Linked DNA regions of Homo sapiens. The protein of the gene in region 3 purifies or fractionates together with the protein of the main gene of each other region. This does not show direct contact. Each region holds a gene or a part of one and is shown on either strand. Other genes may lie near its edges.

Evidence for each region. Proteins that work in one complex are often made in the same cells at the same time.
Region 1: the proteins of OXLD1 (region 3) and NDUFAF5 purify together in Homo sapiens (affinity purification with mass spectrometry; 3 studies listed by BioGRID and IntAct, with this or other methods). This does not show direct contact.
Region 2: the proteins of OXLD1 (region 3) and CARS2 purify together in Homo sapiens (affinity purification with mass spectrometry; 3 studies listed by BioGRID and IntAct, with this or other methods). This does not show direct contact.

The regions. Positions count from the first base shown.
Region 1 is NC_000020.11:13,780,510-13,788,047, forward strand, and holds the start of NDUFAF5 (arginine-hydroxylase NDUFAF5, mitochondrial), read left to right. Parts: upstream 1-4,518; 5' UTR 4,519-4,559; coding exon 4,560-4,781; intron 4,782-5,840; exon of another isoform or gene 5,841-6,802; coding exon 6,803-6,843; intron 6,844-7,538. Other genes in the region: ESF1 homolog, read right to left, coding at 1,995-2,631. UniProt on the Homo sapiens protein: Arginine hydroxylase that mediates hydroxylation of 'Arg-111' of NDUFS7 and is involved in the assembly of mitochondrial NADH:ubiquinone oxidoreductase complex (complex I, MT-ND1) at early stages. May also have methyltransferase activity.
Region 2 is NC_000013.11:110,703,097-110,710,417, forward strand, and holds the start of CARS2 (probable cysteine--tRNA ligase, mitochondrial), read right to left. Parts: upstream 3,021-7,321; 5' UTR 2,998-3,020; coding exon 2,774-2,997; intron 2,476-2,773; coding exon 2,425-2,475; intron 1-2,424. UniProt on the Homo sapiens protein: Mitochondrial cysteine-specific aminoacyl-tRNA synthetase that catalyzes the ATP-dependent ligation of cysteine to tRNA(Cys). In addition to its role as an aminoacyl-tRNA synthetase, has also cysteine persulfide synthase activity.
Region 3 is NC_000017.11:81,664,519-81,671,523, forward strand, and holds OXLD1 (oxidoreductase-like domain-containing protein 1), read right to left. Parts: upstream 2,088-7,005; 5' UTR 2,060-2,087; coding exon 2,000-2,059; coding exon of another isoform or gene 1,781-1,999; exon of another isoform or gene 1,676-1,780; coding exon of another isoform or gene 1,646-1,675; exon of another isoform or gene 1,067-1,645; coding exon 683-1,066; 3' UTR 518-682; downstream 1-517. Other genes in the region: CCDC137 (coiled-coil domain-containing protein 137), read left to right, coding at 2,249-2,382, 3,211-3,344, 5,707-5,935.

The sequences.
Region 1 (7,538 bases), on a different chromosome or scaffold from region 3:
GATACCACCACTGACTCCCTAGTCCTTGCTATCCAGAATTCACTCCACTGCCTGATACCTTCTACCCTCACAGTGTGATCTCTGCTTATCAAGACCTCTTGGCCTATCAAAACCTCTTGGCCTATCAAGAACTCTTGGGCTATCAAGACCTCTTGGCCTATCAAGACCTCTCGGCCTATCAAGACCCCTCCTTGGATCCTGTAATCACAGGTCTGGCTCATGTGAACTACTACTGGTTTTCAGTTACATCTTCAACTATCAGCAACATCAACACTCAAAATTGCTTGCTGCTGGAGGTGACAAAAAATTTTAATTAGTAAACACGTAATGCAAACTAGAGCCAGCTGTCTCTCACCTAGTTCCAAACAATCATTTCTCGCTGCTACTCATTTTGGCCCTTCAAGACCTTATTATCTAATCAAACGGGACTACTGACCTCTTCTGAACATGCCCAATCACATCTTTGCTCAAAAAGTTCTTTCCATGTAGCACACTCTGGTCCTCAAACTTAAATTTTTCCACACCCCAAAGTAGTGCGTCCCCTATGAATTTTTCTGATTACCACATCTTGAGTGACTTCTTCCTCCAGATTTCCATGGCTTTCTGCTAAACATCTTTTACGGCACTTACTATTATTGCATTTTGTATTATGGTTCTGACTTTCTTCTACTTTAGATCTATATTGTCCAATATGGTAGCCAGTAGTCACATGTGGTAACGGAGCACTTGAAATGCGTTTTGTCTAACTTGACATTAATATGAAAATAGTATTAGTATGAAATGAGTAGAAAATGGGATGTAAAATATACATTGACTTTTATATTGATTACATATTGAAATAATTTTGATATATTGGGTTACATAAAATATATTATTTAAAATAATTTTACCTGTTTCATCTTACTTTTTAATGTGGTTACTAGAAAATCCAAAATTATGTATTTCTACTAGACAATGTTGCTTTAGACAGGGGCCACTGCACAAAGTTTAGCAGGCTGTTATCCGCACAGGGGCATTTATAAAAGGACAAGAAGGGCTAAAATCAAGGCCATCCTACACTCACCAAGCCATGCACTCTGGAGGGGGCTGTGTCTGCTCAGGGGCAAAAAATCTGTTGCTTCAAAGGCGCCATCTCTTCACCAAAGTGTGACCCCTGGGAGCTCTGTGTGTCCAGAGAGCATGCCTTTTTCTAATTTGCATAAAGGCATCATATAAGCTAGCGACAGCCCTGAGATGGGTGACGACGCCTTACTCATATTCTGCCTGCCACATACTAGTGGCAAAGCAACTGAACAAATTAATGAATGAGTACTCAACTCTACTTACCCTCTTATTTTATTTTTGAGACGGAGTCCTACTTACCCTATTTATTTTATTTTACTTTTGAGACAGAGTCTCGCTCTGTCAGCCAGTCTGGAGTGCAGTGGTGCAATCTCAGCTTATTGCAACCTCCACCTCCCAGGTTCAAGCAATTCTCCTGCCTCAGCCTCCCGAATAGCTGGGACTACAGGTGTGCGCCACCATGCCTGGCTATTTTTTTTTATTTTTAGTAGAGATGGGGTTTCACCATGTTGGCCAGGCTGGTCTTGAACTCCTGACCTCAAGTGATCTGCCCGCCTTGGCCTGCCAAAGTGCTGGGATTACAGGCGTGAGCCACCATGTCCGGCCTACTTACCCTCTTTAGACACATCTCTTCTTATCATGTGATGACATATAACACTTTATCTGGTTAGAGAATATAGTTCTCATTAGGGCTCACCACTAATCAAAATCACTGTTTAACTTCAAGATTCAAATTTTCATGTCTGTCTTCTAGCACCACATCAAAAATTAATAATCACTGCATATTTCTTTTATAGCTTTGTATTTCCAGATAAGCATTTGACCATTCCATAATACTATGAAAATACTTATTAATGTGTTTACATTTTTGAAAGATCAGTATAAAAATAAATAATGTAACACCCAAGAATCTCTAATTTTTTCCAACCTACCTGATTGCATTTCTCTTCTTGTCTTAGAACACTCGATTCTGGGAGATTTCACAATTTCAGAGGTGCCTGAGTCTAATGTCCTTTGTTTTTCTTCGAGAGAAGAGTCTGTAGTATGTTGAACAATGTTTTTTTTCTCTTTCTTATTTTTTTGTGTAAATTCTTTGCTATCCTTCTTCGGACTTATGTTTGAATCTATCTTAAATTTACATGAGGTTTTCATTTTTTTAATTCCTATAGAATTATCTAAATCAGTTTTATTTTCAGAACCCTTGTGATTAGCCTTCTTGGTTTCTTTCTTTTTCTCAACTAGATTTTTTGAATCGATTTCTTTTTTAGTCTGGGTTTTTTTCTTCTTTATTTTCTTTTGACTCAATGCTTTGCTATCTTCACCAGAGAGATTGGAATCAGAATCTGAAAGGTCGTAAAAACGCTTCAAATCCTCTGTAGTGCTATGGCTAATGGGGCGCCCTCTTTTATCCACGGCATAGTTCAACTTGAACTTCTTGTCATGAAACATGGCTCGAAATCTCTTGTCAATTTTGACTTTTCGATCCTTTTCTGGCATTTCCCAAAATCTCGGGTCCTTTGCAACCCGTCTAAACCGCTGGTCACTCATTATTTCTTGTTTGGATGACATTTTTAATTCTTAATCTCGACCAAATGCTTGAAGAAAACAAATACTGAAAAATAAAACAAATGTTTTAATGGTAATAATGGTTAGTACAATAATTAAATGTTTTAAAACACATTCACAATATATTCTAAGTTAATATATTCTAAGTTAAGTGTACATAAAATAGAGGTAACAAGTCTAATTTCATCTCTCCAACGTATTCTGGGTCACATGCAAAAAAGCAGAAACATACCAAAATATCCTCTTTCCATGACAGATCATTTAGAGAAATAAACTTAAGGTAGACAAAGCAGAATCCCAGGGCTTTATGGAGGGGAACAAATGTTTATTCATCCATTGCTCTCACTTAGAATTTCTATTTGTATACCAGTATGTGTTACTAATTGAAGGCAAATGTAGTTAAGATTCCCTAGGCCGAGTGCGGTGGCTCACCAGCACTTTCGGAGGCCAAGGCGGGCGGATCACTTGAGCCCAGGAGTTCAGGACCAGCCTGGGTAACATGGTGAATCCCCACAAGAAATACAAAAATGAGCCCGGCATGGTGGCGCGCGCCTGTAGTCCCAGCTACTTTGGAGGCTAAGGCAAGAGGATCACTTCCACCCGGGAGGTCTTGGCTAGAGTGAGCCTAACGGCACTACAGCACACCAGCTGGGGCAACAGAGTGAGACCCTGTCTACCAAAAAAAAGTAAGAAAGAAAGATTCCCTAGCCTCCGTTGGCCTCATTTGTTTCTTCACATTCTGGTCTCATTCTGCTTACTCCTTATCTCCGGCTACTGCCAACAAACAGCCTTTAGTTCTGTAAGACTAGCATTCTAACTAAACAGACCAAAATCAACTCAGGTTTAGCTAAGAAAGTTTCCTTTTTAAATTCGATCATCCTTCAAAAGTAATAAAAAGTTTAAAAATAAAAAGTAAATTTGAGTCTCCAGGTAAAGTCTCACACCAGTTAATAAATATCACTTCTTTCTATAATATCTGATTCTACCAGTGATGAAGGCCCAAGTGAGCTCATTCCCCCAAAACATACTAGAACATATACATATGTGTGTATAAATTAATATTGTTCCCTTGTGAAAAGTCTCCAATGGTTTAGCATCTCTGGATGGGAATTTTGCAAAGAGCCAAAAGTCGTTGATTATTAAGCAACCCCCCCCCAAAATGATTAAAAGGGCAATATTTCTTATTTAAAAATCAAGTCCTTTTAATTACACTAACTAGGAAAAAAAAGGAAGCTATCGCTGGTGCATTTACACATTTTTCGATGTATTACAGCACTTAACTCTCTGAGCAATCTTACGAGGTAGGTACCACCTCAACCAGGAGAAGTACTGCATGTATTGTAAATGTTTAGAAGGAAAGCACTCATTATATGTCAGATAATCCGAGAGAGGGGAAGGCGACCGGACCTCACTCCCGACACGCGCCCGCATCCCCGTAGCCCACCCTCCCCTTCTGCCCGCTCTCTAATTCGGAGAACACAGGGCTGGCCCCTGAACTAGGGTCTCCTTTCCACCTCCTGTACCGCAGGGGGGCAGCTAACAGACTGATTCGAGAAGCGACCCTGAAAAGGATCGATGAAGACTGAAGAATGAGACCGAAAAAGGCTCAGGAGGAAGGGGCAAAACCCCTCGCAGATCCGAAAGAGATCCTGTTAGAGACTAGTTTTTTCCCCGCGCCACACACACACACGCCCTCAAGCCCTTCATCTCGAGCTCTTCAACTCCAGTCCATCCCCACTCACCGTCCGCAGTCCTACCAAGCCTCACGTGGGGCTCACACCCACAATCCTCCGCGTGACGCTCCGCCGTAATGGCAAGCGAACTAGGCCAAACTACTTGCACGTTCCCTCGAGAAGATCTTTGGAGTAGACACAAAAGCCGCGCTGGCGCATGCGCACAAAAAGCGCCGGCAATTGGGGTCGCAGCTGGAGATGCTGCGGCCGGCAGGGCTCTGGCGCTTATGTCGGCGACCTTGGGCGGCGAGGGTCCCAGCGGAGAATCTTGGCCGTAGGGAAGTCACCTCTGGTGTCTCTCCCCGCGGTAGCACCTCGCCCAGAACCCTGAATATTTTCGACCGGGATTTGAAAAGGAAACAGAAGAACTGGGCAGCCCGGCAGCCCGAGCCGACCAAATTTGACTACCTGAAGGAGGAGGTGAGCCCGCGGGGCGGCGGGGCGGCGGGGCGGGCGACGCGGAGGCTTGTTTTCCTCTCCGCTAGTTCCGGCTAGGCCCCGAGCTCACCCCACCTAGCCGTCTGACCTTGACCAGCAGCCCTGCCTCTTTCGGCCTCTACTGTAATCACGCAAGGCCTGGCCTCGGATATTTGTAACATGCTTTCATTCATTCATGCATTCATTTCGGCAACGTCCTTGAGGCTGAAAGGACCTTATAGAGGCCTCCAGTGAAGCTCCGGAGAGGGAGAGAGTGGGAGAGAAGGTTAGGAGGACCCAAATCATCAGGGCCTTGCAGGATAGGGACTTGGGGTTTTCTTCTGTATCTGCACTGTCCAGCCAGTATGGTAACTGCCGGCCACACATGTGGCTGTTGAACACTTGAAAGGTGACTAGTCCAATTGAGATGTGTTGTAAAATACACACGAGTATAGTGACTTAGTATGAAAAAAGGATGTAAAATAGCTCATTAAGAGCTTTTATATTGATTACATGTTGCAGTGATTATTTTTGATATATTGGGTCACATGAAATATATTAAATATAAATTTAAATTTTTCAATTAAAATTTCTCTCGTTTTTACTTTTTTTCTTATGTGGCTACTAGAAAATTTGAAATTACATATGTGGCTCTCATGATTTTTGGTCAGCACTGCTCTAGGGGAATGTGAAGCTCTTGTTTTAATCAGTGGAGTGATCTGACTTATGTTTTAGGAAGATCAAATTAAGATTTCTGATTTGTCTTGGCTCGTTTGAGAAACCTTTCTCCCTGCCCAGGTGAGCCAGAGACTGAGGGTTTCTACTTTCAGGACACGCATTCTCAAGTTCAGGCCTCAGTAAATTTTTATTCAGGAGTGGAACAAAGTTGGAGTCAAGTATAATGCAACAAACAGTTATTGAACTCATAGCTTGAGCAGAGCTCTGTGCAAGTACAGGTCTGATCAGATGATTGACAGGGTGTCTTTCTCAGGAAGTCTTAGGCTGGTAATGTCTATTATAGGAAGTTTACTACCAATAAATTTTTTGTGTCTCACTTGTAAGGCATGGTGCACGTACTACACTGCTGATGTCGTGTACTTAGAAGATGTGCGCTCATAGCCCTTTCCCTCCAAAGAAAGCACCTGGACTACAACTTGATTGAGGCCTCGCCAATTTGTGAGACTAGAACAAATAAGATAAAGTATATGAGAGTTCTTTTTATAATAAACATAGGGTGTTCATATTAGGAATGACGTACAAGGTGGACTCCTGGGAAAAACATCTACGCTCCCTTCTCCCTTGCCCTTCTCTCAAAAAGCAGGTACATCTGTGTTTGGAACTTTTAAGTCCTAAGAGCAACTCTGGGGTGTTTATGAGGGAATGAGTGGAATGTGGGGAATACTAGACTCCCACGTCTTTATTGCTACCAGATGAAGCTAGGCCAGCAAAAGGTGGTGCTTACCTTATGACTCTTAAATTGGGATGGGATTGGAGCAGGGGAGGTGCACTTTCCTCAGATTTGGCTTTTTCTAACTTGCGAATGTCACTCAGAAAAGTTGTTCATTTATGAGTTCCACAAAATTTGTTAGTCATCAAATAATAGAGTTTTTCTTAAGTGACCACTTACATACTCATCTACAATAAACCCCAACTAACTAATTTTTCACTTTGTGTACCTCATGCTAATATCCGTGGACAGTAATGTGCCTGTTGTGTTCCTTTTGCTTTTCATCCTTGTGATCTTATGTCACATGGAATGTAAAGGCCACATATATATATGTGTGTGTGTGTGTGTGTATATGTATATTTTTAAGAATATTTAGTCTGGATTTCATGAAATTGACTTCTGAAATAATTTGCCTCAATTTTGTTTCCTGGTGGTTTGAGAAGAAAGTTCCTGTGGTGAAATTGAAAAGGGGATAAAGGGAAGTACTTATTTTAAAACATAAGTAACTTGTGGATTGTTGAATACTGGAAAAAGAGTGTTACTTCCCCGTTAACCTACGCCTCGTGTAATCCTTCAGGTTGGAAGTCGGATCGCAGACCGTGTATATGACATACCCAGGTAAGTGGTGGTGATCATAATACAATACCATCAACTTTTGAGTGGAAATTCAGGAGATTAAATGCTGAGAACTTGCTATCTGAAATGGCAGAACCTGGAAGAATTTACTCAGACTGGTGATTTAAATCACTCTGTAAGTCTCCTTTTTCTTGTCTGGAGAGCAAATGTTTTCTTCATTGTTGCCTGAAAAAAGAAAAGAATGTGTGGAAGCACAACTCGTATCTATCTCCAAGCCTGAATCCACTTGATTTGGCCAAAAGCAAGTAATAGAAAGATTGCTCCAAAAATGGAGATACTTAACAACATGCGAATTTTTAACATCCGAAGCCTCTGTACCTAACTGTGCCATATTGCCTGTGTTCATCATCAAGATATAGGGCATTAGGTAAATAAGGTTATCTACCACCAGGGATTCTCCAGCTATGTACTATAATTTTGACAAAGCTTTTTAAAAACAAATTGCAATGGGGCTCTTTTTGTTCCAGTTTTTCAGGAAGAATGTTCTTAGTAGATAAAATTTTAAGTTTTCTTATTATAGGTTTTTTTTTTTAAACCTATGGCCTACAATTAGATGTCTGTACCAATGTAGCATAACATAGTGTATTTAGAGGAGACAGCATGGCATGGAGGATAATAGTTCCAGCTCAGGATTCAGACTGACCGAATTCAAGTGTTGACTGCCCCTTGTTAGTTGA
Region 2 (7,321 bases), on a different chromosome or scaffold from region 3:
AACTGATCTATTTGTTTTCCCCAAACAGGGTTTCCATCCCTCTGACCTCTTCTGGAAATGGTGGAGGCTATTTTTCAGGGTGTCTCTTTCCAGTGAACTGAGTGCTACCCATTGCTCAAATTCTACCTTTCTGCAGCAGGCACTGTGTGCATCCCTGTCCTGCTGGAGCTGAAATAATTACATCATGCTAACGACATCAGATGGTTGCATAAATAACCACTGAAGGAGTACAATGCTAGGAGAGCTGAGATGGGGAGAGGGAGGTGGGGCAGGCCAGCCCAGCAAAGGCCTGGAGGGGTTGGCCAGGCTGACAGGAAGGTGGTCAACAGGAGAGTCCCAAGCTCCCACCAGCCCCTGGGAAGGCCCTGTGTGGACACAGCTTATAACATGCATTCAGCTGCGCACTTAAGATGTGTATTCTTTTCTGTAGTCATAAAGGTAAATATTATACAAATTTAAACTGCAAGACTTGACTCTCCTAGTTGGAAATGAGAAGAGATTCTCTCCCCAACAACTTTTAGGATTTCTTCCTCAGTCCTCTTCAAATGCATGTCAATCTTTTAAATGGCTAAATAAACCTCTTGGCAGTTTTACAACTCAAGAAAATTTCAAAACCTGGGACCCACCTCTGAAATGTAATCAAGGAAAATAACGCCCCGTTTCCCAGTGTCCTGGGAGGAGATGGGCCTACCTTGTCATCTGACTCCACACTGTAACTCACCTGAAGCAATGGGTTATGCTATGGTCTGAATGTTTGTCTTCCCTCCAAATTCATGGTTGAAACCCTAACTCCCAAGGTGACGGTTTTAGGAGGTGGAGCCTCTGGGAGTGACAAAGTCATGGAGGCAGAGAGCTCATGACTGGGGTTAATGCCCTCATAGAAGAGACCTCAGAGAATTCCCTCTACCTTCTACCATGTGAGGACACAGCAGGCAGACCCTCAACAGACACCAAATTTGCTGGTGCCTTCATCTTGGACTTCCTAGCCCCAGAAAGAAAGAAATTTCTGTTGTTTATAAGTCATCCATTTTAGGATATTTTGTTACAGCAGACTCATAGACTGAGACAGGCTGTATCCCCAAAGCTCCATAGAAGGATGAGATTTCTTTCTGTCTTTGCAGTTATTTTAGCTCATCCCCTTCTGGTTTAAGGCTTATTCAGTAACAGAACTGTTTTCTTTCTCTTCTACCTTTGTGGAAAGGTTTTCCAGGGTGGGGGTTTTGTTTTTAATATTTCCCCAACATATTTTATAATTCAAGAAAGATGTCGAAATATGCTTTTGATAATTAAAAGTATGTTAGCCCAAAGTAAAGGGGAAAAATGTATATTTAAAGTATACAGAGTATGCCGGGCATGGTGGTTCATGCCTGTAATCCCAACACTTTGGGAGGCCAAGGCAGGTGGATCATTTGAGGTCAGGAGTTCGAGACCAGCCTGGCTGACATGGTGAAACTCCGTCTCTACTAAAAATACAAAAATTAGCCGGGCGTGGTGGTACATGCCTGTAATCCCAGCTACTCCGGAGGCTGAGGCAGGAGAATTGCTGCCAGGAGGCGGCAACTGGACCTGGGAGGCAGAGGTTGCAGTGAGCCGAGATTGCACCACTGCACTCCAGCCTGGGCGACAGAGCGACTCCGTCTCAAGAAAAAAAAAAAGTATACAGAGTAAATGTAACTTTTTACTTTTAGTCTAGGACTGAACAATACTAAGTTTTAAAAAATCTATAATATGTCATTTTTGTACATTATATTTTGGAAATGTACAAAATATTAGGAAAAGTGGTAATTTTGGCAAATGTAGGAGGCAGTACATCTTACAGTTAAAGAGGTCAAGAGAGCAACCACTTCGCAGTCAGAGAAACCAAGCCTCACCCCAGTTCCAATACCTCTTCAATGTGTCATCTTAGGAAAGTTACTCAATCACTATTGAGCCCCGTGACATCTCACATGTGAGGTACAGTGTTAAGCAGCATTTTATGGGCATTATTTACTAAAATTGTTATAAGATCCAAGTTATCATTCCCATCTCAAAGATGAAGAAACCAGGACTCAAAGCAATAAAGTGACCTGCTCAGTGCTGTGAAGCTAAGAAGTGGTGGGGCCCAGGAATGACTGATCAGCAGGACCCCGGGACCCCGCAAAGGCCTCTTGATGTCACTAAACCCAGCAAAAAACATCTAGTTCCAAAACGGGTCATTTTTCAGTGCTCCATTGTCTCCCTGAGTTTCCTCACCTGTAAAACGGGTGTAAGTGCTCAGAATCCCTATAAGAACCAAATGAGGTTGTAACATTTCCCACAATGCCTGGAATGTAGGAATTATTCTGCATCCCTAAGTTGCCACTTAAGAGATAAAAGAAATCAGCAAAAGGCTTTCAAAAATAAATGGTCCTTTGAAGTATGAAAATTCAAATCCAGGAAACTCACCAAGCATGGCCAAGGTGCGCATGATCATATACAGTTGGTCCACAGCTATACCTGGAAACAAAGTTAAAATCCATCGTGTGGAACATATTTGCAAGAAAGGACATTCGATTCTGAGTTATAATGATCATATAATTTTTAAAGTAATCACTTCTGGGGGATGAATAGCCGGGGTTTTCATACTTGCTCAATTCACACCCAAACCTGCAAAAGCACCGCGCACCCCCAGCTTCTAGAACGGCGCCCTCCATGCAGCTTCCTAAACGCCCTCCCCGAGCCCAGATCCCGTTCAGCCGTGGGAAGTCTCCGCCACGATCGGCCCCCGCCCGTGCCCCAGTCCCGCGCGGCCCACCAGGAGGCGGCTTCGGCGTGCGCCACGATTAGGGGTTCCTTCCTCCCGGTGAGGCTGTTGTACACCTGCACACCCGTCTCCCGGCCCGTGGGCTGCAGCCAGGCCCGCCCGCGCCCCCCGCTCGCCGCCCGGCCCGCAGGCCAGTGCCACCCAGCCCGCCCAAGGCCCAGCGCGGCCTGGAGCAGCGGGGGGCCCAGGCCTGGGCCGCGCGTAGTCCTCAACATGTCAGCGGCCAGCGCCTACGACTGGGCGGAGACGGGAGCCACGCCGGGTACGCTGCCGGTCGCTCAAGAGCAGCACGGCCCCGCCCCGCCCCGCCCACGCCCTTGGGGCCACGCCCACTCCCGGAAGCAGTCCTCAGGTAGCGCCTCCCTTTGGCCTGGCTCGAGTCGCCCGCGGCAAGGGTGGAGAACCAGGGCCCGAAGAGGTTGGGGCGGGGAAGGCCCGGGGTGGAGGGAGGAGGGCGGTGCCGCGCCGGGAGGCCGTGGGAAGAGGCGGTACCGTGCCGATCTCCTCTCCTTATTAGCCCAGGTCCTGCGAGGCGTCCGTGTGCGCGCGGTACCAGCCTGGAGCTGTGTCCGCCGCGCGGGAGGAGCGTTTACAGTGCAAGCTTCTGTTGCCGGGCCCTGGCCTGTTAGCGAAGCACGTGTGCATCCCAGCACAGCCCACGTCAGCACGCTAATACACAGTGTCCACCCCAGAACACACGTCAGCACCCCAATACAGTGTGCACCCCAATACAGTGTGCACCCCAAACACACATCTGCGCCCCAATACAGTGTGCACTGCAGCACACCGTTAGCATCCCAACACAGTGCACCCCGATACACAATGTGCAACCCAACACACAGTCTGCACCCCAAGAAGTGTGCACCCCAATACACAGTATGCACCCCAGCACACACATCAGCATCCCAATACAGTGTGCACCCCAATACAGTGTGCACCCCAGCACACACATCTGCACCCCAATAGTGTGCACTGCAGCACACCATCAGCATCCCAACACAGTGCACCCCGATACACAGTGTGCAACCCAGCATACAGTCTGCACCCCAATACACAGTATGCACCCTAGCACACACCACATCAGCATCCCAATACAGTGTGCACTCCAATACAGTGTGCACCCCAGCACACACCATGTCTGCACCCCAGTACAGTGTACACCCCAATACAGTGTGCACCCCTAATACACTGTGCACTCTAACACACACCATGTCTGCACCCCAGTACAGTGTGCACCCCAACACAGCACATGTGCATCCCAGCAAACACTGTCTGCATTCCAATGCAATGTGCACCTCAATAGAGTGTGCGCCCCCACACATCTACACCCCAATACAGTGTGCACCCCAATACACAGTGTGCAACCCAACACACACCATGTCTGCACTCCAATACACAGCATGCCTCCCCCACCATGATCCCGTATCTTGAGAACAAAAACATTCTGAAAGTTACTCACAATAGCTTGACAAACGTGCCTCTATTGGGCCAGGCGCAGTGGCTCACACCTGTAATCCCAGCACTTTGGGAGGCTGAGGCGGATGGATCACCTGAGGTCAGGAGTTCGAGACCAGCCTGACCAATATGGTGAAACCCCGTCTCTACTAAAAATACACAAATTAGCCGGGCGTGGTGGCGTGCATCTGTAGTCCCAGCTACTGGGGAGGCTGAGACAAGAGAATCGCTTGAACCCAGGAGGCAGAGCTCACAGTGAGCTGAGGTCACACCACTGCACTGCAGCCTGGGCAACAGAGGGAGACTCCGCCTGAAAAAAAAAAAAAGTGCCTCTATTGGTGTCTTGCAATACGATGTCTCAAAAAAAAGAAAAAGTCCCCTTTGCTTTTCCAGTTCTCAAAACAGGAGACGTTCCTCTGGTTTTTTGTTGTTGTTTTTAGTTTGCTTTGGTGTTTTATTAAAAAGCAAAGGTTTAAGTAGAGACAAACAAGTGTGTACCTAGAGTAGTTTCTCAATATCCTGGAGTCCAACTCTGCAATTCTGTTTCAAGCTAACTGTAGTCTAATGTAATCTATTGTCTAATTTAATAAGGTTAAAATGTTAGAATTAGGAGACCCTATAGCCTACATCAATGCTAACCACTCATGTTACCTAACTACTCTAAATTCTCCTGAATATTATCACTTCTTGCCTGCCTTATGTTATTTTGTAACTTTCCAGTGCTGTGTGTATATTTATCTCCCTGAGTATCTTAAATTGTACATTATTTTGAACTTCTCACTGTGCCCTGCACTAAATTCAGAAAAGGACTTGGGTTTTGTTTGTTTTGTTTTGCTGTGGCTGGAAAAAAAAAATTTAGAAGAAATAAAAGGGCTTGTTGAATGTTGATGAATTAATCCCTTACGAAAGGGATTAATTGTGCAGGTGGGAAGAAATCTGGGTAGTAAAATACCTGATAAAGCTGATTCAGATATTAGATGTGCCAGTAAATAAAGCAAATTAACAAAAAGCTCAGTTGCAATCTGTGAGAACACACGAATTCAAGGAAATAACTGGAGCAGAGATTCTGAAAGCAGCTTAGTAACACTGAAGATCAAATCTGCACATGAATCTGGACATGCGGTATATTTGAATTGTTCATAGAACATCACAACTTTTAAATTAACAATAGTATCTTCTGTCTTCAGAAAATTCATGTAATGTTTTTAGCCCCTCACTGGCAGTGATTCTATTATGTTTTCTTTTTTTTTTTTGAGGCAGTCTTGCTCTGTCACCCAGGCTGGAGTGCAGTGGCCTGATCTGGGTTCACTGCAGCCTCTGCCTCCTGGTTCAAGCAATCCTCCTGCTTCAGCCTCCACAGTAGCTGAGATTACAAGTGCACACCACCGTGCCCAGCTAATTTTTGCATTTTTATTTTTATTTTTATGTATTTATTTTTGAGACAGAGTCTCACTCTATCACCCAGGCTGGAGTGCAGTGGCACGATCTCGGCTCACTGCAACCTCCACCTCCCAGATTCAAGTGATTCTTCTGCCTCAGCCTCCCGAGTAGCTGGGATTACAGGTGCGTGCCACCACGCTCAGCTAATTTTTGTATTTTTAGTAGAGATGGGGTTTCATCATGTTGGCCAGGCTGGTCTGGGACTCTGGAACTCCTGACCTCAAGTGATCCAGCCACCTCAGCCTCCCAAAGCGGTGGGAATACCGGCCTAAGCCACCACACCTGGCCAATTCTCTTTTCTCTTTTTTCTTTTTTTTTTTTTTGAGATGGAGTTTCACTCTTGTTGCCCAGGCTGGAGTGCAATGGCGTGATCTCCTGGGTTCAAGCGATTCTCCTGCCTCTTTCTCACGTCTCCCGGGTTCAAGCAATTCTCCTGCTTGTCTCCTGAGTAGCTGGGATTACAGGCATGTGCCACCATGCCCAGCTAATTTTGTATTTTTAGTACAGATGGGGTTTCTCCATGTTAGTCAGGCTGGTCTTGAACTCCCGACCCCAGGTGATCCGCCCACCTCGGTCTCTGAAAGTGCTGGGATTACAGGCATGAGCCACCGTGCCCGGCAGCTAATTCTGTTTTCTTAAGGCTTTTGCGGATCATCAAAACAAGGAGAAACATAGCTCATTACCTAATGATGGTTAGAAATGTGATCTTTTTGCATATTGAATATCTGCAGGTTGAATATTAAGGTAAAGTAAAATAGACTGCTAATGCTCTTCATTACTATACCTCCCAGCCTACATCTTTCTCCTGTGCTGGGTGCTTCCTGCCCTCGAACATCAGACTCCAAGTTCTTCAGTTTTGGGACTCAGACTGGCTCTCCTTGCTCCTCAGCTTGCGGACAGTCTATTGTGGGACCTTGTGATTATGTAAGTTAGTACTTAATAAACATATATATGTATATACATTATATATATCTATATCTCCATCCTATTAGTTCTGTCCCTCTAGAGAACCCTGACTAATACACCATATATACATAAAAAGAGGATCCATTTAATTGAAGTCACCTCCCTCTCCAATCTAGGTCAGAACGAGGAAGTGTGTTAAAGTTAATGATTCCAAAATATCACTAATGCCATTTCTCAGTCCTTAATGACAACAATAACAAAATCAAGTTCTCAGTATTACATTTTCTTTCAAGGCAAAATCTTGTAAATCAGAAGTAGAGTTGATTACGGTAGCATATGGTTTAGGGGTTTTCAAGTTTAAGATGAATGAGTTTGCATTTATTTTTTAAGCACTTTGAAACTTAAACAATTCTATGCTTGGCCAGGCGCGGTGGTTCACGCCTGTAATCCCAGCACTTTGGGAGGCCAAGACAGGCGGATCACCTGAGGTCAGGAGTTCGAGACCAGCCTGGGCCAACATGACAAAACTCCGTCTCTACTAAAAATACAAAAATTAGTTGGGCATGGCGTCCGGCACCCGTAATCCCAGCTACTCAGGAGGCTGAGGCAGGAGAATCGCTTGAACCCGGGAGGCGGAGGTTGCAGTGAGCTGAGATCACGCCACTGCACTCCAGTCTGGGTGACAAGAGCAAGACTCCGTCTCAAAAAAAGAAAAAGAATTATATGTTCATCTCTTAT
Region 3 (7,005 bases):
ACGAAAAGGGGTCCTATTTATTGAGTCAGAGTTTCACTCTCGTCACCTAGGCTGGAGTGCAGTGGCATGACCTCAGCTCACTGCAACCTCTGCCTCCTGGGTTCCTCAGCTTCCTGAGTAGCTGGGATTACAGGCGCCTGCCACCACACCTGGCTAATTTTTGTATTTTTAGTAAAGATGGGATTTCACCATGTTGGTCAGGCTGGTCTCCATCTCCTGACCTCATGATCTGCCCGCCTCAGCCTCCCAAAGTGCTGGGATTACAGGTGTGAGCCACCACACCCGGCTGGGGGTCTTATTTTCACCACACTCGGCTGGGGGTCTTATTTTACCCTCATGGCAGGGTGATGGCTGCAAGAGCTCCGGAGGTGCATAATGCCGACCTGGACCTGCTCGCTTTGAAGATGCAACACAAGCCTTACGGACAACCACACAAAAGCCTCCTGTTGAGGCCAAATCAGCAGCCATTCTGGTTGGCAGACATACTGCCAAAAAAACCACCCCCAAAACAAAAACCTCCTGTGAAACCACCATAGAGAATTTATTTTTTTCTCAGGTGAAGTCAGTAACTAATTCTTCCTATTCCCGTTGGACACAAGGAGTCTGTGAGGGGGTGTGAAGGAAGGAGGCTGCGGCTGCGTCCTGGACTCCGTCCTGCGGTAGGGAGTCCAGCAGGGATGGCTCAGCCTCCGCACCTGGTGTGCAGCCGGATCTCCATCCTGAGGAAGGCCTTGAGGTTCTCATCAGCCACGTGCTCCTCCAGGGCAGCCAGGGCCCGCTCCCCACCGTCCTGGAAGTGCTGCAGCAGCCTGTCCGCGTACTCCACCCACACGCAGTTGGGGCAGCCACTCATGCAGCAGTTTGTGGGCGGCTGGAGCTCAGGTGGCAGCGATGCCTTGGGCGGCCTGGTGCCGTCCGCACCTGCTTGGGAGCCCACCTCTACGTGGTCTGTCCCGAATTTTCTGCGCCCATCAGGGGCTTGCGCTCCGGGATGGTGCCTTTGAAGAAAGCTGCCACCTCCAGGAAGCCTCTGGCAGCAGTCCGGGCTGGAGAACCGGCGAGCCCCCTGAGGATGCAGACAAACATGTGACTCTCCAGGAAGCTGGTGAGGCCCGGTCTACCCCCAGCAGTGAGGACATTTCAGCTCTCCTGTCATTGGGCAACTGGCTCCATGTCCTCAGCTTTTTCACTTCCTGTGACTTTAGACATGTTATTTCACCTCTCTAGACTCAGTTTCCCCACTGTGCAATGGAAGTCATGGGTATGACACGGTGTGATTCACAAGAAGTGCCAGGATCAGGGCCTGGCGCCGGGTGTGCACTCAAGCACATGGTGGGGGGTGGGGGAGGCACTCGACACCTCCAGCTAAGATGGCTGCTCTGTGGACACCAGTATGCGAGAGGTGTAACCCTGTAAGCTCCTGGCCAGCCCAGCACCTCTACCAGTATAACCAAGCCCCACCACCTCTGAGGGACCAACCGGAAGAATCGCACCACCCTTTATCCAAGTTTCCCTGTCACAAAGCCCAGGCCTCTCAGGCCCCTCTCATCCCAGCGTGAATGTCCTATAGGCAGTCTTCCGTCGCTGCCCTGCTCTATCTACCCAGGATCACGGACTGACACGCTACCAACTTCACTTATTTAACTAGTCCTGCGAGGGGCATCATCCGCTCCATGTCCACGGCCAGTCCCCAGAGCCCAGGAGGGCTCGCACACAGGCGCTCGGCAGATACTGAGAAACAGGAAAGTGGCCGTTCACCGGGCTGCTTCCTCTCCCAAGGCTAAGCGGCCCCTCCACAGATTCCGGGGCGGGGACTCGGTAAGAGCCGATGGAGGAGAGGAGCGAGGGGTCCTTCGGCGGCGGCCAGCGCGCGATCCTCCCGGCTCCGTCCCCACATGCGGGTGGAGGGGCCGGGGCTCCTCCCGGTACGTGCGGGCCCCCGGACAGCGGCCTCTCGGACGTGCCCTTCGGCGCTGCCAAGACCCGTCCTGGTACTTGCCGAGCCACGGACCGCGGCGGCTACCGCCCGGCCTCCCTCGACCACCCTCCGCAGCAGCATCGCCCGCGGACGGGATCCGGCAACCCCTGACCGTGAGCGGCGGGCGCTCCGGCCAATCCCGGACCTTCAGGAAGTCGCGCCGCTCCAGCCAGCGTGAGGCTGAGCGCAGGAAGCGGAAGTGCCGATCGGTGGGGCGGAACCATGCAGGAAGGCGGAAGTGGCTTCGCTAGGGAGCCTCCCGGCGTGGAGATGGCGGGAGCTGGTCGCGGAGCAGCGGTGTCCAGGGTGCAGGCGGGTCCTGGGAGTCCCCGGCGAGCGCGGGGGCGGCAGCAAGTGCAGCCGCTGGGGAAGCAGCGCCCAGCCCCGTGGCCCGGGCTTCGCAGGTGACTGCGCTGCCCCGCGAGGCCGCCACACTTCCCCAGAGAAGGGGACGCCTTGAAGGCTCCGCCCGGGACCCCCTAGGGAGCGTTCGCTCGGACCCCTTCCCCAGGTCGGGCTCAGTGCCCTCCTCTGTCTGTGCCCGCGGCCCACGCTCCGCCAGGATCGGTTGAATGAATGGAGGCGCGAGCGAGTCCTTGGTTTTGCCTTTCCCGCGTCCCAGTGTCCCGTCTTTGTGGTTCTGGACGAGGTCAGGGCGGAAAGGCCTCCTGGGCTTTCGGAGTGCCTTTCGGCCTCGCGTCCCGTGAGGAAGGGGTTCAGGGACAGCCACTGAGTGAGACCGAGAGGAAAGATCCCTGCTCCCTGGACTGCTGGACCGGCTCGCACCACAGAAGCCAGATGTGGCCCCTGTATAGATAGATTCTTTTTTTTTTTTTTTTTTTGAGACGGAGTCTCACTCTGTCGCCCAGGCTGGAGTGTGGAGTGCAGTGGCGCGATCTCGGCTCACTGCAAGCTCCGCCTCCCGGGTTCACGCCATTCTCCTGCCTCAGCCTCCCGAGTAGCTGGGACTACAGGCGCCCGCCACCACGCCCGGCAAATTTTTTGTATTTTTAGTAGAGACGGGGTTTCACTGTGTTAGTCAGGATGGTCTCGATCTCCTGACCTCGTGATCCGCCCATCTCGGCCTCCCAAAGTGCAGGGATTACAGGCGTGAGCCACCAAGCCCGGCCAGCCCGTGTAGATTCTATTGCCAGACCCAACTATTGTTTCTCTTACTGATTCTGCTTGTGCTTTACTTGGGACGGGTCTCACCCCCGTGTTCTTTCTCCCAGCAAAGAGAAGAAGAAAGTGAACTGCAAGCCCAAGAACCAGGACGAACAGGAGATTCCTTTCCGGCTCCGGGAGATTATGAGGAGCCGCCAAGAGATGAAAAACCCGATCAGTAACAAGAAGAGGAAGAAAGCAGGTGTGTGCAGGCCCATACTGGGCGGCAGTGAAGCTTTGTGTGTCTCAACCCGCCCAATCGCCCAAATACTTCAGAACGTTTCAGGCAGAGGAAATATGCCAAGACCCGGTGCTCAGAAGGTGGGGGAGCGTGGCCAAAGCTAAAGCAGTGGCTGGCAGCTGGTGGCGCTGTGGTTCCAGACGAGGCTTGGAAGGAGGCTGTGGGGTGGGCGGGGAGGACCCGTTATGGGGCCTCAGGATCCATGCTAAGGAGCGGCGTTTTTTTCTCCCCAAAAGTAGCGAAGATTCATCAGAGTTTTTAGCAGGGCACGGCCAATTCATGTTTACTCTAAGCAAAAAAAGGGTCACCGAGCGATGATGGAGTGAGGGAGAGTGGACCTGGCAACTGGCGGGGCTACTGCCAGGGAGAAGCCATGATTCTTGGGACAAGAGTGCTGAAGCAATGGTAGAGAGAAGTGGGTGGAGTCAGGAGCTGAAGGAGGAAATTCCATCAGGCCCCTCTGAGAAGTCTTGCCTTCCTCCCCCAAGTCTGGGTAGGGTGTCCACATGTCCACCGCTGCAACCCAGAGGTAACACTCTGGGCATGTTGGGAAACGGAGTCCACTGTGTGTATATTTTGCTTATAGACACATTTCTCTTCCCAAACGTGGCACTGGTTTTACAGCAAAGCTGTTTTATAATTTGTGTATAAACTGTAGGCTTCTTGTTGGGGGTTATATGGCTGCCAAAGGGATAGTGAGATAGAGGTGAGGAAGGTGCAGGGAGGAGGCGCACTGGCCTGGGTAGCACATGGCACGTTCTGAACCGTGCTGCATTGAATTGGCACCTTTGTTTGTTTGTTTATTTATTTATTTATTGAGATGGAGTCTTGCTTCCTCGCCCAGGCTGGAGTGCAGTGGCGTGATCTGGGCTCACTGCAACCTCCACCTCCTGGGTTTAAGCAGTTCTCCTGCCTCAGCCGCCTGAGTAGCTGGGATTACAGGTAACGCACCACCATACCCAGCTAATTTTTTGTGTGTGGTTTTTTTTTTTTTTTTTGAGACAGTCTCCCTCTAGCCCAGGCTAGAGTGCAGTGGCACAATCTCAGCTCACTGCTACCTCTGCCTCCCCTGTCCCAGTTCCAGTGCAAGCAATTCTCCTGCCTCAGCCTCCCGAGTAGCTGAGATTACAGGCACACGCCACCAAGCCCAGCTAATTTTTGTATTGTTAGTAGAGACGAGGTTTCACCATGTTGGCCAGGCTGGTTTTGAACTCCTGACCTCAAGTGATTTCCCCACCTCAGCCTCCCAAAGTGCTGGGATTACAGGTGTGAGCCACTGTGCCTGGCCTTTTTTTTTTTGGAGACAGAATATCGGCTCACTGCAACCTCCACCTTCCAGGTTCAAGCAAGTCTTGTGCCTCAGCCCCCCCAGTAGCTGGGATTACAGGCCTGTGCCACCATGCCCGGCTCGTTTTTGTATTTTTAGTAAAGGCTGGGTTTTGCCATGTTGGCCAGTCTGGTTTCGAACTCTGGCCTCAGGTGATCCGCCCACCTCAGCCTCCCAAAGTGCTGGGATTACAGGTGTGAACCACCATGCCTGGCAATATGCATGTCTTCACATATTTATGAACACAACCACCTGCCTGGCACTGTCCGCCTCCTGTGTTCTACACTCGCCCGGGGTCCTGCGCTTGCGTTCTCAGTGGATGTCATAGGTCTGCCCACGTTTCTTTTTTGAGATGGAGTCTCGCTCAGTCGCCCAGGCTGGAGTGCAGTGGCGCAATCTCGGCTCACTGCAAGCTCCGCCTCCCGGGTTCACGCCATTCTCCTGCCTCAGCCTCCCGAGTAGTTGGGACTACAGGCGCCCACCACCATGCCCAGTTAATTTTTTCTGTGTTTTTAGTAGAGACAGGGTTTCACCGTGTTAGCCAGGATGGTCTGAATCTCCTGACCTTGTGATCTGCCCATCTTGGCCTCCCAAAGTGCTGGGATTACAGGCATGAGCCACCGCGCCCGGCAGGTCTGCCCACGTTTCTCTGTGTAGCTCCACTGGGCTTCTTTCGGCAGCTGTGCAATGGAGTCTGTGGGTGATCAGAGGAGAATTCATTCAACCAGCCACCTAGGGGTGGACATTAGGTTGTTTCTGCTTTCCTTTTTCAGCTGTGCTGCAGTGGACATCTGTGACAGGTGCCATTGGGCTGGGGGGTCACGTCCCCGGGGATGCCGGGCCGGGCATTCTACATCCTCTTCAGCTGCTGTCGTTGGGGTGCTTCCAGCCAGCCTGGTCTTCCCTTCCTGTGGCTTTGGGAGGGGAAATGAGCATGGGTCACCTGCCTGCCACTGTCTGCCTCCTGCCTCCTCTGAGGCCTCCCTTTGTCCTCAGCCCAGGTGACCTTCAGAAAGACATTGGAGAAGGAAGCAAAGGGAGAGGAGCCCGACATCGCAGTCCCCAAGTTCAAACAGAGGAAGGGGGAGTCTGACGGGGCCTATATCCACCGCATGCAGCAAGAGGCCCAGCATGTGCTGTTCCTCAGCAAGAACCAGGCCATCCGGCAGCCAGAGGTGCAGGCAGCTCCCAAGGAGAAGTCTGAGCAGAAAAAAGCAAAAAAAGCGTGAGTGGAGGCGGGAGGGGGAGGGGTCTGCCCTGGGAGCCGGAGGGAAGACATTGGGTTCCCATGACGGCCCTCTGCAGGTACCCTGTTTCATAGCCATGGGGCAGCCTGGATTCAGGGAGACCAAGCCAGAGCCCTGGGAGTTGGCGAGTCGGAGCATCCAGCTGGGAGCCAGTGAGGGTGTGGCCTCCAGGAGGCTGCGGAACCTGGGAACTCTGCGGAGACCTCGCTTGGTCCTTGCTTTCACAGGAAAAGCACCAGAAAGCCCTAGCCCTGTGGGAATCAGCCCTGAGGGGGTCGGTCTGAGGGTGACGTGCCCAGGGGTTCTGTTTCCATTAGAACAGAATGTCTCTCGTCCAAGAGACTACACCTTCCTAATTCTCTAAAAGCTTTGGCCGAGTACAGTGGCTCACGCCTGTAATCCCAGCACTTTGGGAGGCTGAGGCAGGTGGATCACGAGGTCAGGAGATCGAGACCATCCTAGCCAACACGGTGAAACCTTGTCTCTAATAAAATACAAAAAAAAAAATTAGCCGGGCGTGGTGGTGCATGCCTGTAATTCCAGATACTTGGGAGCCTGAGGCAGTGGAATCGCTTGAATCCGGGAGGCAGAGGTTGCAGTGAGCTGAGATCGTGCCGCTGCACTCCAGCCTGGTGACAGAGCGAGACTCCATCTCAAAAAAAAGAAAAAAAAAAAAAAGCTTTGAAGGTTTGAGAGGTTGCTTTCAGCTCTGTAGATTCCCTGTTTCTGGATTGTTGTATTACTTATAGTTACCTTAGCCAGTGAAAGTTCATCACAGAGAACGTGGCCCAGATACAGCCTGGCGCCACGGTGATCTCCAGAGCTGTCGCTGAAGGTGAAGCTTCCAGATTCACATTGAGGGAGACGTGATATACAATGCTTGTTAGGCCCTTTAGACACAGCAGCACCGGATGGGCTGGATGAGTCTCTGTTGGGTGGTCTTTGGCAGCCTTCCCAGCCTTCGTGCACAAGGTGCCAGTAGCCCTTGCCCACGTGTCTGCACACATTGTCAGATGTTCCCTGGCAGGTAGCTGTCCCCAGCTGAGAA